Regions from separate parts of the Homo sapiens genome. Here region 1 is linked to region 2. A link means that fine-mapping ties the variant in region 2 to the expression of a gene that starts in the linked region. Tissue or cell type: tibial nerve. Region 2 holds a variant in brackets; the other region holds the start of a gene. All regions are shown on one strand. Distances are between the middles of the regions.

The links. PIP is the estimated chance that this variant, and not a neighbour inherited with it, causes the effect.
Region 1: VAPB starts here. The variant in region 2 is fine-mapped to the expression of VAPB in tibial nerve (GTEx, PIP above 0.99). The same link has a PIP of 0.9 or more in stomach, tibial artery and whole blood.

Annotation. Positions count from the first base shown.
Region 1 is chr20:58,384,615-58,392,797 of GRCh38, forward strand. VAPB (VAMP associated protein B and C) reads left to right here and starts at 4,615. Exons shown (of 6, transcript NM_004738.5): 1 at 4,615-4,903. The coding sequence starts at 4,846. RefSeq lists silencers at 4,324-4,763, 5,024-5,143.
Region 2 is chr20:58,431,442-58,439,624 of GRCh38, forward strand. It overlaps VAPB (VAMP associated protein B and C), which reads left to right. Exons shown (of 6, transcript NM_004738.5): 3 at 3,161-3,264; 4 at 7,504-7,584. Among named protein-coding and RNA genes, the nearest start is that of VAPB, 46 kb to the left of the region's middle. The variant C/T (reference allele first, on the strand shown) is at 3,299.

The DNA.
Region 1 (8,183 bases), 47 kb before region 2:
GGTCAGGAGTTCGAGACCATCCTGGCCAACATGGTAAAACCCCGTCTCTACTAAAAATACAAAAAATAGCCGGGCGTGGTGGTGGGCGTCTGTAATCCCAGCTACTTGGGAGGCTGAGGCAGGAGAATTGCTTGAACCCAGGAGGTGGAGGTTGCAGTGAGCCGAGTTCGTGCCACTGCACTCCAGCCTGGGCAACAGAGCAAGACTCCGCCTCTAAATTAAAAAAAAAAAGACACTGGTGTCTCATGTGAATGCCCACTCAAAGACATCTACTGCAGCAGCAACTCTATTAATTGAGTGGACAAGAGGGCACATTCTGCAGACAACAGTCAGTCTTTCCCACAGCTGTGCCATTGCGTGCTCAATGAGCTTATTTATGCAGTGGCCATGGTGGCAGGTGTGGAGGCTCTGTATGGGCTTAGGAACATGGGCTTCCCCTTACCAAAGTGACCCGGCAGAAGAGACCAACACTAAAGCTTTGTTATGGCACCATTCCCTGGGGGAGGGCAGAGGAGCTGGGAACCAGTGTTAAAAAACCTATAAATGTGGCCAGGCACAGTGGCTCATGCCATTAATCTCAGCACTTTGGGAGGCTGAGACGAGCGGATTGCATAAACTCAGGAGCTCGAGACCAGCCTGGGTAATGTGGTGAAATCCCATCTCTACAAAACTTTCAAACATTAGCCGGGTGTGGTGGTGCCTACCTGTAGTTTCAGCTACTCGGGAGGCTGAGGTGGGAGGATGGCTTGAGCCCATGAGGTAGAGGCTGCAGTGAGCCAACATTACACCACTAAACTCCAGCCTGGGCAACAGAGGGAGACCTTGTCTCAAATAATAATTAAAAAAAAAGAAAAAACACAACCTATAACTACTTGGATATGTAAAAGAACAAAATAGAACTTATAGGCTTAAAAAAAAATAAACAAAATGAAAAACTCCTGAAACAGGTTTATCAATAGCCTAAGAGATAATTAGTGACTAGAAGAAAGATCTGAAGAACTATCCAGAACGTGGAACATAAAGAGGACAGATTAAGATGTGATAGAGAGGTTAATAGACATGGAGAAGGGCACAAGACTTTTCTCTTTTTCTTTCACAATCCACAGTAATAAATGTATTTTAGTTGTGACTCACTCCATAGATATGTGTATATTAATAAATACAACTGAAACAAAAGATTCATGAAATAATACAATACACTCCAATATATTATATTCTCGTTCTTTCTCAACACTGGTAACAATCTACTACATTGATTTTATAAGCCACTGTTGGAAAACAACCTACAGTTTGAAAAATATTAGTTGAATAACTACTAATCACACTACAAGATGTAAAGAGTGAGAGAACGAGGTTGAGATAACATTTATTTTTATTTCTTCTTTTTTTGAGACAGGATCTCACTCTGTTACCCCAGGCTGGAGTGCAATGGTATAATGGTTCACTGCAGCCTCCACCTCCTGGGCTCAAGTCCTCCCACCTCAGCCTCCTGAGTAACTGGGATTACAGGCATGCACCACCATGCGTGGCTAATTTTTTTTTTTTTTTTTTTGTATTTTTTGTGGAGATGGGGTTTTACCATGTTGCCCAAGCTGGTCTTGAACTCCTGGATTCAAGCAGTCTGCCCGCCTTGACCTCCTAAATTGCTGAGACTACAGGCATGAACCACTGTGTCCATCCAAGATAACATTTAACAGAGATATTGTCACGTATGATACAACACGGATGAACTTTGGGGACTTTATGCTGGGCAAAATAAGCCAGTCACAAAACGACAAGTATTGTATGATTCTGCTTACAAAAAGTACCTAGACTAGTCAAATTCACAGAGGCAGGATGTGGAATGATGGTTGCCAGGGGCTTAGGAGAGGGAGCATGGGGAATGATTGCTTAAGGGGTACAGAGTTCTAGTTTTGCAAGATGAAGGGAGCTCTAGAGATGGATGATGGTGAGGTCGCACCACAATAGGAATCTTGTTAATACCACTGGATACTTAAAAATGATAGAGAGTAAATTTTATGTGATGTGTATCTTACCACAATAAAAAAGTAAAATTAAATTGAAAAAAAAAAAGTATTGTCTGAGAGTTTTCAAGAATAATGAAAGACACCAATCATCAAATTCAGAAAGCCCAAAGAACTCAAGGCAGGATAAATAAAAAGATAACAGCATGAGCTGGGCATGGTGGCTCACGCCTGTAATCCCAACTTTTTGGGAGGTCGAGGTGGGTGGATTACCTGAGGTCAGGAGTTTGAGACCATCTGGCCAACATGGCAAAACTCTGTCTCTACTGAAAACACAAAAATTAGCTGGGCATGGTGGTGCGTGCCTGTAATCCCAGCGACTCAGGAGGCTGAGGCAGGAGAATCGCTTGAACATGGGAGGCGGAGGTTGCAGTGAGCTGAGATGGCGTCACTGCACTCCAGACTGGGGGACAGAGCGAGACTCCGTCTCAAAAAAAAAAAAAAAAAAAGATACAGCATGGTAAAACTGTAGAACATGAGAAGAGGGAGAAAAGACCAACAACCTATGAAGGAACGATGTTAAGATTGTCACTGGACTCCTGAGGAGCAATGAGGGGGAACAGGCAAACAGTGGATGGCAATCAAGTGTGCTGAGAGAGGACAGCTGTCATTCAAGCAAGCAAGCCAAAATATCTGTCAAGAACAAGGGCAAGGCCAGGCGCAGTGGCTCATGCCTGTAATCCTAGCACTTTGGCGGCTGAAGCAGGAGGATCACTTGAGCCCAGGAGTTTGAAACCAGCCTGGGCAACATAGTGAGATTTTACAGAAAATAAAAAAATTAGCTGGGCGTGGTGGTGCATGCTTTTAGTCCCAGCTACACCGGAGTCTGAGGTGGGAGGATTGTTTCAGCCTGGGAGATACAGGTTGCAGTGAGCCACGATCATGCCACTGCACTCCAGCATGGGCAACAGAGCAAGACCTCATCTCCAAATAAATAAATAAATAAAATAAAAACAACAAAAGGCAAAAATGAATCCATTTGCAGATGAGCAGAAACTGAGAGGATTTGCACCAACGAAGCTACAAAAAAATAAAATTTAAAGGATTTACCTCAGGCAAAAGGAGAGTGATCCTGTTGGTGAAAGCTGAGATGCAAGAAGAAAAGGTGGATAAAAATGGTAATTGTGTGGCTGAATCTAAACTAATGTTGACTGAATAAAACAATTTAGTAATGTCTCTTGGGGTTACAGTGGCAAAGGTTAAACTTAACATACACTACATTAAGGTGTATAATTTAGAGGATGGGTGATTAAAGTACTCCAAAGTCTTTATATTTTAAGGAAACAGGGTAAAGACATTTTTACAAATATTTAAAGATATTGGACTTTCACAAGGTAAGTATGCATGCCCAAAAGTTTGAAGTAACCACTAAAACTTAGAAATAGAGTATACAGGTGAAGAAAATCAGAATGAGAATAAAAATAAACCCTAAAGAAGAAAGGAAAGGGGAAAAAAACCAGGCAGGACAAATAGAAATAACAAAATACAATGGTAGAAATAATTCCAGATATATCAGTAAATATAATAAATGTAAATGGACTAAATGCTCCAGTTAAAATACAAAGACTATTCTTTTAAAAAACCTTTTTATCATGAAAAATTTCAAGTATACAGCAAAGTGGGAGAAACAGTACAAGAAAACCATATACCTGCGATGTAGAGTCAGCCATTGCTAGCAATTTGCCACATTTGTCTCACCTATATGGGTATGTATAGGAGACTATTAAGAACACCTATTTAACTTCCATAGTAAACATAATATAATGAAATACAATTTAAACGGTAATCATGATGTAGAGTATCCACTTTTGAGGTCAAGCAGATCTGGATTCTCCAGCAATTTTTAATTATTTAACTTACGTGTGTGGTTATTTATTCAAAAGATGTCTCTTCACTAGGCTATAGTAAAAGGATTGGAATCAGGTTCGCTTTTCTGATCATTGTATTTCTAAATATTTGTTGCATAAACAAATAGAATTTACTAGTAAAGAATTCAGCACAGTGCCAGTTGCATAGTAAACATTTAACGTAGAGTAGCTTGTATTTATTGTAGTTGCTGTTGTTATTGGAAGCATTCAGTAGAGTGATACAAAATAAATAAGCAATAATTGGTAGTTTATTATATTTATAATTATTATTTACAAGACGTCACAGTGCCTAGCCCATATCACTCACCCATAAACATTATACTTATACTAAGTACTTTCACTATTATTCAAAGTCTCTAACAGTGCCTGGCACTACATAAGCAAGAGAAAAGTGGAAGTTTATTCTAATTGTTATTATTGAATAAAGCACTTAACACGAAGCTGGCCCCCAGCGGGCCCTTAATAGTTTCCGCGGTGGCTGTCGTAGCTGGACTACAGACCCCGCCTCCTGAGCGGCCCGAAGCCCCGCCCCTTACTGCCCCGCAGTCCCGCCCCCGTGGCTTGTGCCGCGCCTGCGCACTGTCCCGGAAGGGGCTCTACGCGCGCAGCTTTAGTCCCCGCCCCTGGAGCCGGCGGCGCAGGGCGCAGCTTCCCGCCGCCAGAGCGGGCCAGCCTGCTGCGTGCGTGCGTGTGTACGACTCTGCGTGCGTGCGTGCGTGCGTGCGTGCCGTCAGCTCGCCGGGCACCGCGGCCTCGCCCTCGCCCTCCGCCCCTGCGCCTGCACCGCGTAGACCGACCCCCCCCCAGCGCGCCCACCCGGTAGAGGACCCCCGCCCGTGCCCCGACCGGTCCCCGCCTTTTTGTAAAACTTAAAGCGGGCGCAGCATTAACGCTTCCCGCCCCGGTGACCTCTCAGGGGTCTCCCCGCCAAAGGTGCTCCGCCGCTAAGGAACATGGCGAAGGTGGAGCAGGTCCTGAGCCTCGAGCCGCAGCACGAGCTCAAATTCCGAGGTAAGCCCCAGAGGCCGCCACCTTCCTGCCCGCGGCCTCCGCCCCAGTGCTGGAAGGACGGAGCCCGGCGCGGCGGGTGACGTCGGCCCTCGTCCCCACCCCGACGGCGCTGTCGCGGGGGGCGGCGAGGCCGGGCCGGGCCTTGGCGCTCGCCGCGCTCCCCAGAACTGCCCGGAGTGGCCGGGACCCGAGAGGGCTGGTGCGGGAGCCGGGGCCTGCGCCTCCTCCCCGACCCCCAGCCTCCTGGGACTTGCCTTCGAGGCACTTGTCACTTTGTAACTTACCAGTTTGTGATCCTCTCTAGTGTGAGCCTCCGCCGCTGCCTTTGCCTAGAAGTTTCTTCCCCTGCTCCGTGACAGTGTTGACCTCAGGGCTTAGTTGAGGTGTCAGCTGCTCAGAGAGGCCTGCTGTGACCACCCAGCCACCGTGCACACCTGCTGTCATTCCCTATTCCGTCACTGTTTCGTGGTCAGCACGGCACTTTTCATACCCAAAATCACTGTTTCAATACTAGAAGGGAAACTGCATGAGGACAGGCTCTTGTCAGTTCGCTGCTGTGTACCCAGCACACATTATACGCCTAGTAAATAAATACCTGTTGAACCAACAGATGAACATGTTGAACCAACAAATGAACCTCCTCAGGACTTCTGATGGGATTGGGCCCATTTTCCTTTCACTGCGTCCCTCATGCTGTCTCCTGGTTGCGGTGCAAGGAGGCTGCCACGGTGCTGGGATCCTTTTTCTCCGCAGAGCTGTCTGGAGCAACACCTGCGGCGATGGGAAGCCATGACCCTGGTTTCTCCCAGATACTATTACCTCTGTAATTTGTGCCTTTATGTTTTCTATGTTGTTACTTTTGTTTTTTTTTTTTTTTTCCTACCTTCACCAGGGCCACGAGGTAAAAGTTCTTGTCTGACATGCTCATTCTTTCTTTTTGCGTGTATCCAGTGATGTGGGAGGCTCTGGGGAGGTGATGGATGCACAAGACAGATAAGGCCTCTGCTCTCACAGAGCTTACCTTCCGACGAGGACAGACAAACCAACACACAAGATCATTGCAGATAGTGCTAAGTGCTGTGTAGGAAATGGAACAGTCTGACTCCATGGAAGCGTACTTTAGATTGGAAGGCCGGGTCTCCACTATATCGCTAGCACCGGACTCACAGTAGATGCTCAGTTGGTATTTATGAATGAATGAATGGCCAGAGGCTCTCCAGTTTATATGTCCTATTGGGAAGTAGTGTAGGGTAACTTACCCAAAGTTACCCAGTTGGCAAATGGTACATTTGAACCCAGACTTCAGAGTTCACGCTCTTAACCGTTTTGCTGTCTGATCGCTGGGAAATACTCCAGAACGGTGGCTGTCACTTTGCCTTCCAAGTTAACAATGTGAAATAACTCTGAATTTACAGAGAACCAAAGGCTTTCCAATTAAAATGAAAAAACCGAAAAACCCCACCAAACCTACCGTGGATTGTAATTCCAGGATAGTACTTGAGCTTTCATGATGTTCTCATGGCCTTCTGGGGATGCCAGATTGGGAAAGAAGTCCAGGTAGCTAAAGTGAAAATAGTGAGCCTTAGTTTCCACTTGAGTTGTCTGAAGTTCTTTCTCTATCTGGGAGGCCTGGCTTGGCTTCTCCTGATAATTGGTGGGTTCATTCGGTTAGTCCACAAACATTTACTGAGTACCTGATCTGTGTGTCAGATACCCAGAGAAGCCAAGTTATATCAGCTGTACTCTCCTATTTTCCCTCAACCTCCTCCCAGTACTTTAGGGAAGGGGGCAGATGAGAATAACAGCCAGGACAGGACAATGATGTAGGGTAGTCCAGAGTGCTCCAGGAGCATTGAGGAGGTCAACTCCTGAAAGAGGTGTCATTTGAGCTCAGTTATAAAGGTCGAGTAGAAGAAGGCTCAAAGAAGGAAAGGGTGGGGAACATTTCAGACAGAGGAAATTGCATGCACAGAGGCACAAACACTGAGATGACTGGGCTCCTTTGGGATGCCACTAGTAGTTTTTTTTTTTTTGAGATAGAGTTCTCACTCTGTCACCCAGGCTGGAGTGCAGAGGCGCCATCTCACTGCAGCCTCTGCCTCCCAGGTTCAAGTGATTCTCCTGCCTCAGCCTCTTGAGTAGCTGGGATTACATACAGGCATGTGCCACTACGCCTGGCTAAATTTTGTATTTTTAGTAGAGACGGTGTTTCACTATGTTGGCCAGGCTGGTCTCAAACTCCGGACCTCAAGTGATCCGCCCTCCTTGGCCTCTCAAAGTGCTGGGATTACAGGCGTGAGCCCGGCCACCACTAGTGGTTCTGAATGACAGCAACAAAGAACATTTGTTGTGGTTGCCTGGCAAGATGGGAGACAAGGCTGGTGAGTAGACAAGAGTCAGATCTCAGTCCCTTTATGCATAGATGCAGCCAGTGTCCAAGTTAAAATTGTGTTGCTTCTCCTTGAGCAGTCCTTCCTTGCATTAACTTTCTGAAAACCCCCAAATCCCAGTACAAACTCTGTTGTCTAATATGTTATGGAAAGAGGCACTCATTTGAGAAAATTTAAGATTTTGTTCAATTGTTTTACTGAAAGATGTGTGACCTTAGGCCACTTCACTCCTCAAAGCCTGGGGTGGTTATTCGGTCAATGGGGATGATGCTCGTGTCCACGTTGCCTCTTGTAGAACGTGTTTAGAAGGAATGACATGGCTGTTAGTGGCTTTGTAAGTGCATAGTACTATACAGAGATTAGACAACCACTTAACTACTTAAGTGGTTTCATCACTTCTGTACCTGAAAGGTGTGGCAGAGAATAGCGATCATTCTGGCCCTGGATTGGCCAAAGTAATTATGCCAAAGTCACTGGATATTTTTGCTAGGGAAGTGGTCCAAGAGAAGTGGTACCAAATTGTTGAAGGCCTCTGGCTCATAACTTTAGAAGAGACATCTGTGTGTGTTCTTAAATGACGTCATGAGGTGTGTTGTTTGTTTGTTTTAAACTGAATGCTAAGACAGTACAATTAATAGAGACTGAATACCCTGACTTAGAGATAATTCATTTCAGGATGAGAAATGGCACATTTAACTGGTTTCTTCCAGGTTACTCAGGGTGACGACTCTGATTTCTGGTCGTTCACCTAGATGAACCTCTGAGCTAACTTTACTTGAGAAGGTAATAACTAAAATGCCCATTCAAAGGAAAAATTATCTTTTAAATGCAGCCTAAGTTGATCGTATGGGATTGTATATTGTCAGACTCTTTAATCTTGGGAATTTTGT
Region 2 (8,183 bases):
AAATTGTTTTTCTCTAGAGTCAAAGCCAGGTTTGAGCCCTGGCACTCTTGTTTAATACGCTGGCCATGGGACCCAGGTGAGCCCACTTAGCGCCTTTCTGAGCCCTTATCTTGTTTGTTTTTTTTTTTGTTTTTTCTTTTTTTTTAAGAGACTGGGTCTTGCTCTGTCACCCAGGCTGGAGTTCAGTGGTGCTATCATAGCTCTCTGCAGCCTCCATCTCCCAGGCCTAAGCAGTCCTTCCACCTCAATCTCAGCCTCTCAAGTAGCTGGGACTATAGGCTACCATGCCCAGCTAATTTTTTTGTGGTAGAGATGGGGTCTTGCTTTGTCGCCCAGGTTGGTCTTGAACTCAAGTGATCCTCCCGCCTTGGCCTCCCAAAGTGCTGGTGTTACAGTTGTGAGCCACCATGCCTGGCAGCCCTTATCTTTTTATCTTGAAAAAGGAGACGTGCTGCTTGGATGGATTGTTGTGAGTAGTAAATGGGAGCACTAAGGAGAATTTGCCTTCTATGGTACCTATTACACAGGAGGCATGAGTAAAGATTCTTTTCCTTTCTTTCCTTCTTGGGCCATCATGAAAGTATTGGGGATGAAGAAGCTGAGGGATGATGGAGAAATGGAAAGGAAGGACCTGTTTTCCCTTGGGGCATTCTTAGAACCCAGGCAGAGCTCTGGACACAGTGCTCTTGGCTGTACTTTTTTACTCCCACTGCCTCTAGGAAGGTGATGAATGGGAAGGGGCAGGCAGAGCTTCCTGGGGCTGTTTTTTGGGGGTGTGTTCTGTTCTCTGGACCCATTGGTTTTTGTATTTCATCTAAATAGCTTCTCTAAAAATTAGCATTTTCCTTGGATTGCTGTCATGTGAGCATCAGGGATCTTTACAAATAAACCTTGTTCCTCCTCAGAGCTCTCCAGAGTGGTAGACTTGGGAGTGGTGCAATAGCTGTTCACAGCTGGGAGAACAGAGTCTCAAGGGTAAGACGGTGTTTACTACTAGATCTGTGCCCTGCCAAAAATCTAAGAGTAGTTCAGGTCAAAGTTCTCTTCTTTCCTAAACTGAAAAATACCAGAGCATGATTTTGTCACAGCCAAGGAAGACCTGAAATTCTTAAAACTGAATTCACTTTAATTTTAGAAAGGGAACATTAATCTAACAGTGAATCCCAGCTCCAAAGAAGGTTGACAGTCCCTGTCCAGGAAGGTTCACAGAGCATGTAAAGACATTGGCTCTTTACTTTAAAATGTGTGTTTTCGTTATTGCAATCTTAGGGGCAGGAAAAAAACACATTGGGAATTTGGCTTTCAGAAAAAGCATTGACCTGCCAGTCTGGTCATTTGTCCCTGAGGTTAAGTGTCAAGCCCAGGTCGGTAAATGTTCCAGGTCTGTCTGTAGGAAAGGTCAGCTCTTGCCAGCTCAGTGATGCCAGAGAAAGAGTTATGTTGATAAAAGGTTTACTCTCTGACAGTTATTGAATTTTGTCCTGAAGAAGTCTCCCAGCAAGGCTTCCTTGTAGCTCAGGGCCTTCAGGTGGGTCTTGTGGGCAGTGAAGCTGTCTGGGTGACTAGGGACACCAGTGCATTTAAGTCCAATGCATGGTTAGGTCTCAGTGGACTTTCTCTGTTCCCATGGTGAAGAGTGCTACTGCATCCCTAAGATGGATGGGGGAGGTTGGTATTTCTATCCTGTTTTGTGAATGGTTCCATTAGCTTTGTCGTGGGGCCTGGGTGCCAGATATAAATCTAGCTCATATTGGAGTGACTAGTGTGGTGAAAGGGGTGCTAGACTGCACTTGTAGTCAAGTCTTGGCTCTTTGTCCCAGTGTTGCCACTTCTTAACATTGTGACTTTGAGGGAGCCACTTCACTTTGTGGAATCCCAGATTCTTCATTTGTAGACCACGGCTATCCTGCTTTCTATCTGCTGCTGGCTGTGGTTGATTGTGTGGCTCTAGAGGAAGCACCTGGGAAGTCCTAAGTTGGGGTTTCAAGGCAAGAGAATGCTGATGAGGGCCCAGCAGAAAGGTGGTAGAAGCCCTGCTGGTGAGAAGCATAAGACTTGTACTGTCAGAGGACAAGGCACCAGTCCTTTGTGGTGGCTGTGAACTTAGGTCCCCACACCAACTGCCTGGGTTTGAGTCTGCACTCCACCAAGGTGTAACCTTGGGCAAATTCACCTCTCTGTGTTCATTCTTTTCATGTGAAAAGTAGACACCAGAATAGCCCCTCTCCCCCAACAATAGTACCTACTTTTTAAGGATTAAATGAGATGATGGTAAACCTAAGGGACAGAGCCCAGTTTCTGGCACATGGAGATACTCAGTCCATGCCCACTGTTGTGGTCAAGGCCACAGTAGGCTTTCCCTGCATGTGAAGTTGTCTCAGGGAACTTAACTAGATGTGTGGGTTAGCCAAAGCCTTGTAGCAAAGTAACATATTTTAAAGCAGCCATCATTTGATAGGAGTAGGCCCAGCTGTACTCTAGGAAGTAGGCTGAAGGGAGCCACTTGGGGTAGGAAGGCACCTCCCTCCATGCAGTGGGTGTGACTCATCCACAGGATCCTCTGTGTGAGATTTCTCTAGGTTCTTAGGGAAAAAAAAGGGGGAGTATAAGCTGATACCGTTTTCCCTGCTGTGTGAGTGTCCTGATTGTAAAAATTTTCTAGCTTTATGTTGGCAAAATTGTATTTCAAGGATTACCTTGATTAGCTATATGAGAAATGGGTTGGAGAGAAGCTACAACAGTTCCTTAAATGTTCTTAAACATCTTAGATTATTCTATTTAATTCCTGAAGAGATCATTTGGATATGTTTTCTTGAGCAAAACAGGCAGATGGTGTTGCTACCCAGTTTCCCAATTCTGTAAGGCCTGTAGCAGACATTTACGGTAGGCTTGCAGTAGTGAAAGATCCATGGACTAGGAATCAGAAGACTGGGTCCTCGGCCTTATTCCCAGCTCTGTCATGCGTGATTTTGTGGCTCTTAGGTTGGTGACCTGCAAAATGGAGATGTTGGTCATCCTTGCTTACTTCACCAGGGGCGTCCATCCTAAGACATAAGAGAATGCCGGTAAATTGCTTTACAACCAAAGTACAAGTATTAGCATAATAAATGGCACTGACAACCAAGCTCTGACCCTCCTAATGAAATATTTTCTTTCTCAGTGATGTTACAGCCTTTCGATTATGATCCCAATGAGAAAAGTAAACACAAGTTTATGGTTCAGTCTATGTTTGCTCCAACTGACACTTCAGATATGGAAGCAGTAGTAAGTACTGAATGCTTCTTATTTTTTTCAGTAA[C/T]AATAATTTAAAAAACCAATTAGATATGGAATTGTGGGTGCATGCATTTCAAAATATGTCAAAATTATTTAAAAGGGAATAGTTTTTTTTCAAGGAGGTTTGTACTTTATCTACCTTTATGGTTTTTCTAAAACTTTGAGGAATAATTTTAACATTTTTTGTGACTTTCTAGAAGGCTGTTCTTTTCTGACTTTCCTGAGCTCAGTGTGCTTCAGCAGCTCCTTGCACTGGTGGATGGTGTCTTGCATGGTTAGGGATTGCCTTCTTTCGCCTCTCCTTTCTGCCCCGACAGAAAAGGATACTTTTCATTGTCCCGCCTTTTTCTTACTTGTCTTCTCATCCCCCACAAACTCAAGAGCCATGTGAGAGTGTCAGTGCTGAATGTCCTCACCCATTTAGACATACATGTTTGTGGCTTTGTTCTAGTAAATATGCTTATTTATTTTCCCCCCTGCTTAAATCTATGTTTAACTTTTCTCTAATTTTGATAAAATTAAGATGACTTCATTTTTATAAAAGAAATAAGTGATGTTAGTGATGGTTTTGGAAAAAAAAAAAAGAGTATAATGGACATTCCCTCCAAAACGAGCTTTTTATACATTTGAATAAGTCCATTGGCATTCTGGGGCTGGGAGTTGAATTGAAATCTACAATACAACCCACAGCCCCAGCAGGGACAGATGCGCTTGTCCTTACAGTTCAGGAAAGCAGGACAGGGTTGCCTCATACCACTTGCATTGCTCTCCAGTTTTGGCCCGCCCAAAGGGGAGCCCCGAGTCATCCACGGCAGGTCTGCCCACCTGAGTCCGCTGTTCATCACACCATACTGCAGTTCTCCTCTGTCTGAGTTTCATACCAAGGGCAACTCAGGCCAAGACCACCCCATGCCCTATGTCACCACATAGCCTTTTGTTTAAGTTCTGGAGAAGCATCTCCGCTGATGTTTCACTTGTAGGCAGAAAATGAAGGAGGAGGCCAGATATTTTTGACTTTTAGAGAGATCAGTGATAATAGGCTGTCTTCTTTTCATAAGAACAATTCTTATGAAAACTTTCTCTGATTTTCTGCAACATGATGTGTTACTTCATGTTAATTTGTGTGATCAAAGAAACATGGCAGATAGAAAATAATGGAAGATCCAAGGGTGTGTTCTGTTTGGCTTCTGCTGCATGGCATAGTGAAAAGAGCATGGGCTTGGGTGTTTTCGAGCTGAGTTCTTCCTTTTACTGACGTTGTGGCTGGGAGCAGGTTTTATTAACTCTGTTGAGGTTTTGATCATTTGTAAAATAGGGATAAAAATGCAGCTCACACAGTGGTGAGTATGAAGTGTGCCTGTGTAAGTGCCTGGTGGGTCCAGTGTCTGACACTTGCTTATCAGAGTGTGTAATAGGCCAGTCACTGCATATCTAGTAAAGGGTCATTTTAGTTCCTTGTATGATGATATAAGTTTAAATTTTTTTTATATAAAATGTACATTGTGGGAAATTTTGGAAATACACAAATGAAAAAAATTTAAAGTGACCCATAGTTCTTTTCTACTAGGCCTAACCATCATTAATGAGAAATGAGAGCTTTGTGTTTTTCTTCCTTTTTTTTTTTTTTTTTTTTTTTGGAGACATGATTTTACTGTGTCACCTAGGCTGGAATGCAGTGGAGTGATCTCAGCTCGCTGCAGCCTCCACCTCCTGGGCTCAAGTGATCCTCCCACCTCAGCCTCCCAAGTAGCTGGGACCACAGGAGCGCACCACCATGCCTGGCTAATTTTTTTGTAGAGACAGGTTTTCTCCATGTTGCCCAAGCTGGTCTCAAACTCCTGGACTCAAGCGATCTGCCCACCTCAGCCTCCCAAAGTGGTAGGATTACAGGCATGAGCCACTGCCCCAGCCTGCTTTTTCTTTATTTTAAAATGTTTTTCTTTTTATTGTGATATACAGAAAGTTGAAAAAATAGCATGGTGACCACTCATATAACTTTTACCTAGATTTACATTTGTTAACATGTTGTGACATTTGCTTCCTTTCTGTCACAAACTTTCTTATTTGCTTGAGATGCAAATTTATGACACTTCACCCCTAAATGCTTCAGAGCAAGGACAGTCTCTTATATAGTCATGATACTATTAATCATAGCTGAAAAAAGTAACTTCAATTCAGTATTATTATGTGATAAATTCATATTCATTATTTCCTAGTTGTTCCAAAAGTGACCTTTAGTAGAGGACACCCAAACCTTTTTGTTTTTCAAACTTTGAACTTTTTTTTTTTTTTTTTTTTTTTTTGAGACAAAGTCTTGCTTTGTCACCAAGGCTGAAGTGCAGTGGTGCAGTCATGGCTTGACCTCCACCTCAGCTGTTCGAGTAACTAAAACTACAGGCATGCCACCATGCCGGCTATTTTTTTATTTTTTTATAGAGTTGGGGTCTCACTATGTTGCCCAGGCTGGTCTTGAACTTCTGGGCTCAAGTGATCCTCCTGCCTCTGCCTCTCGAAGTGCTGGGATTACAGGTGTGAGCCACTGCACCCTGCCCAAACTTTGAACTTCTTTTTTTTTTTAAGAGTCCAGGCCAGTTGACTTACAGAATGTCCTGTATTCTGGATTTATTTGATTATTTCCTCATGATTAAATTCAAGTTAAATGTGTTTTGGCAAGAATATTCCATAGTTGGTATTTCATACCAGGTTGTTCCGCTGTTGGTGATGCTGTTTGATCACTTGGTTAAGATGGTGACTGCCAGCTCTCTCCACTGTCATAGCACAAAGCACATTTGCCCCTGTGGTTAATAGGTAATCTGTGATACTCTGAGTCATCTGATACTTTGAGACCATGTGAATATCCTGCTCGCCAGCAGTCTTTCACCTGGTGCTTTTAGCATTCAGTGATGATCCTTGCTTGATATTTTTTTTGACTTATGTGGTAGGCACACGTGTACAGGTGTGTGTGTGCAGAGGAGCAGACTTCAGTATTCTTTGCGATTTTTTCACTTAACATTCTGGACATTTTCTCCATCTAACTGAGTGCTCTTCAGCATCATTTGAGTGGCAGCATGCTGTTCCGTTTAGTGGATCTGCCATAATTTTTGTGGCAGTCCCCTAGGGTCAGATGTATAGATTGCTTCCCACTTTTGGTTCTTGGTACCTGTGTTACAGTAGCTGCCTCTTGCATGGTTTTGGGAAGGGTTGAGGGCATGGAGGGTGGGGGTGCCTTCTTTTTCTATATCATAACCTTGCTGCTATCCTGGTCTGTAATCCTAGAATACCCTGGAATTCCCATCTTCTGCTGCCAAAAGGAGAAGTAATCAGGAGCGTATCCTCTTAGGACATGGGATTTAGCTAGGAAGGTGCTCTCACTACAGCCTGGAGGGATGGAGATGGGTCTTGGGGTAGACACAGCCCACACACTGCCACAGTGACAGAGGAGGGATTTGGTAATGAATGTGTTCCGTTGGTAGTTGGCAGAGTGGTTCTGAAACTAGTCCCAGATAGTATGCGCTTATACTTTCTAGATATGCCTTTAAAATAAGTTTCATTTTCTCATTTTAATTTAATTTATTATTTTTGAGACAGAGTCTCTCAGTGTCCCCCAGCCTGGAGTACAGTGGCATGATCATGGCTCACTGCAGCCTCCACCTCCTGGGCCCAAGTGATCCTCCCTCCTCAGCCTCCTGAGTAGCTGGGACCACAGGCATGTGCCTCCATGCTTAGCTAATTTTTTAATTTTTTTGTAGAGATGACGTCTCCTTACGTTGTGCAGACTGGTCTCAAACTGCTGGGCTCAACCAGTCCCTCCACCTCAGCCTCCCAAAGTGCTGGGATTACAGGCATAAGCCACCATGCCCAGCTGAAAACAAGTTTTATTTTCATAAGGAGAGCCAAGGTTACCTGGTCATCCAGACATTGTTTAGAGGATTCCTTTTTGTTCAGTGGTGGGCCTGTCCCACAGAGTAGCAACATGGGGAGCATTGGTTGACTTTGAGGAGTCAGGCAGCAAGACTTCAGGGTTTATGAAGTGTAATATTTTGAGAAAGTGAGTGTATTTAATCTTGTCATGTTACAAATATTGAAATCTCAGCAGACTTCAGTTCTTTATTTGATATACATCAGGGCTTTCTCATTAAGAGTATTTTTCTGAAATTGTCAGTTATAGGAAGAAAGTTATTCTTCCAGCAGGTTTATAATATCTTGATTATTAAATTTAAATTGTTTTAGTGGAAGGAGGCAAAACCGGAAGACCTTATGGATTCAAAACTTAGATGTGTGTTTGAATTGCCAGCAGAGAATGATAAACCAGTAAGTATATTTATAGTTAACAATAATTGAATGTTGTAAGCTGATACTTATTTGCATACCATTTCCTGCAAAACCAAGATTTAAGTTGGCAAATTATTTTCCTTTATCTGATGTCTGAAGAAAAAAAATAAGCTGAAGTCAGCAAATAAGTGGGCCTTTATGAAATCAGCCTTTGAAAAACTCACGGAAAGACAACTGATTGACAGTGTTTCCCCTTGAAAAGTGCAGCCCGATGGCCATTGAGATGTCATAAATCCTGAAGAGCTTCTGTGGCCTGGCAAAGGTATAGGTTGCTGTTAAACAGTGGGTGAGAGTGAAAGAGGGAACAATTTGCCCTTTATCATGGTGGTTGATGGACGTGTGGGAAGCTTTCAAGTTCTCTTGTTTTACAAAGTGCCCTGTCAGCCTCCCTACCCCTTTTACCCTATCTACCTCTTCAATCAAAGGCTGCTTTTAGATGAGGATTTCTCAGCCTCAACACTGTTGATATTTGGGGCAAATCCTTGGTGGTGGTGGAGGTTGCCCTGTGTACTGTAGGGTGTTTTATTAATAGCAGCATCCCTGGCTTCTGCCCTCTTGATACTGGTAGTACTTCCCAG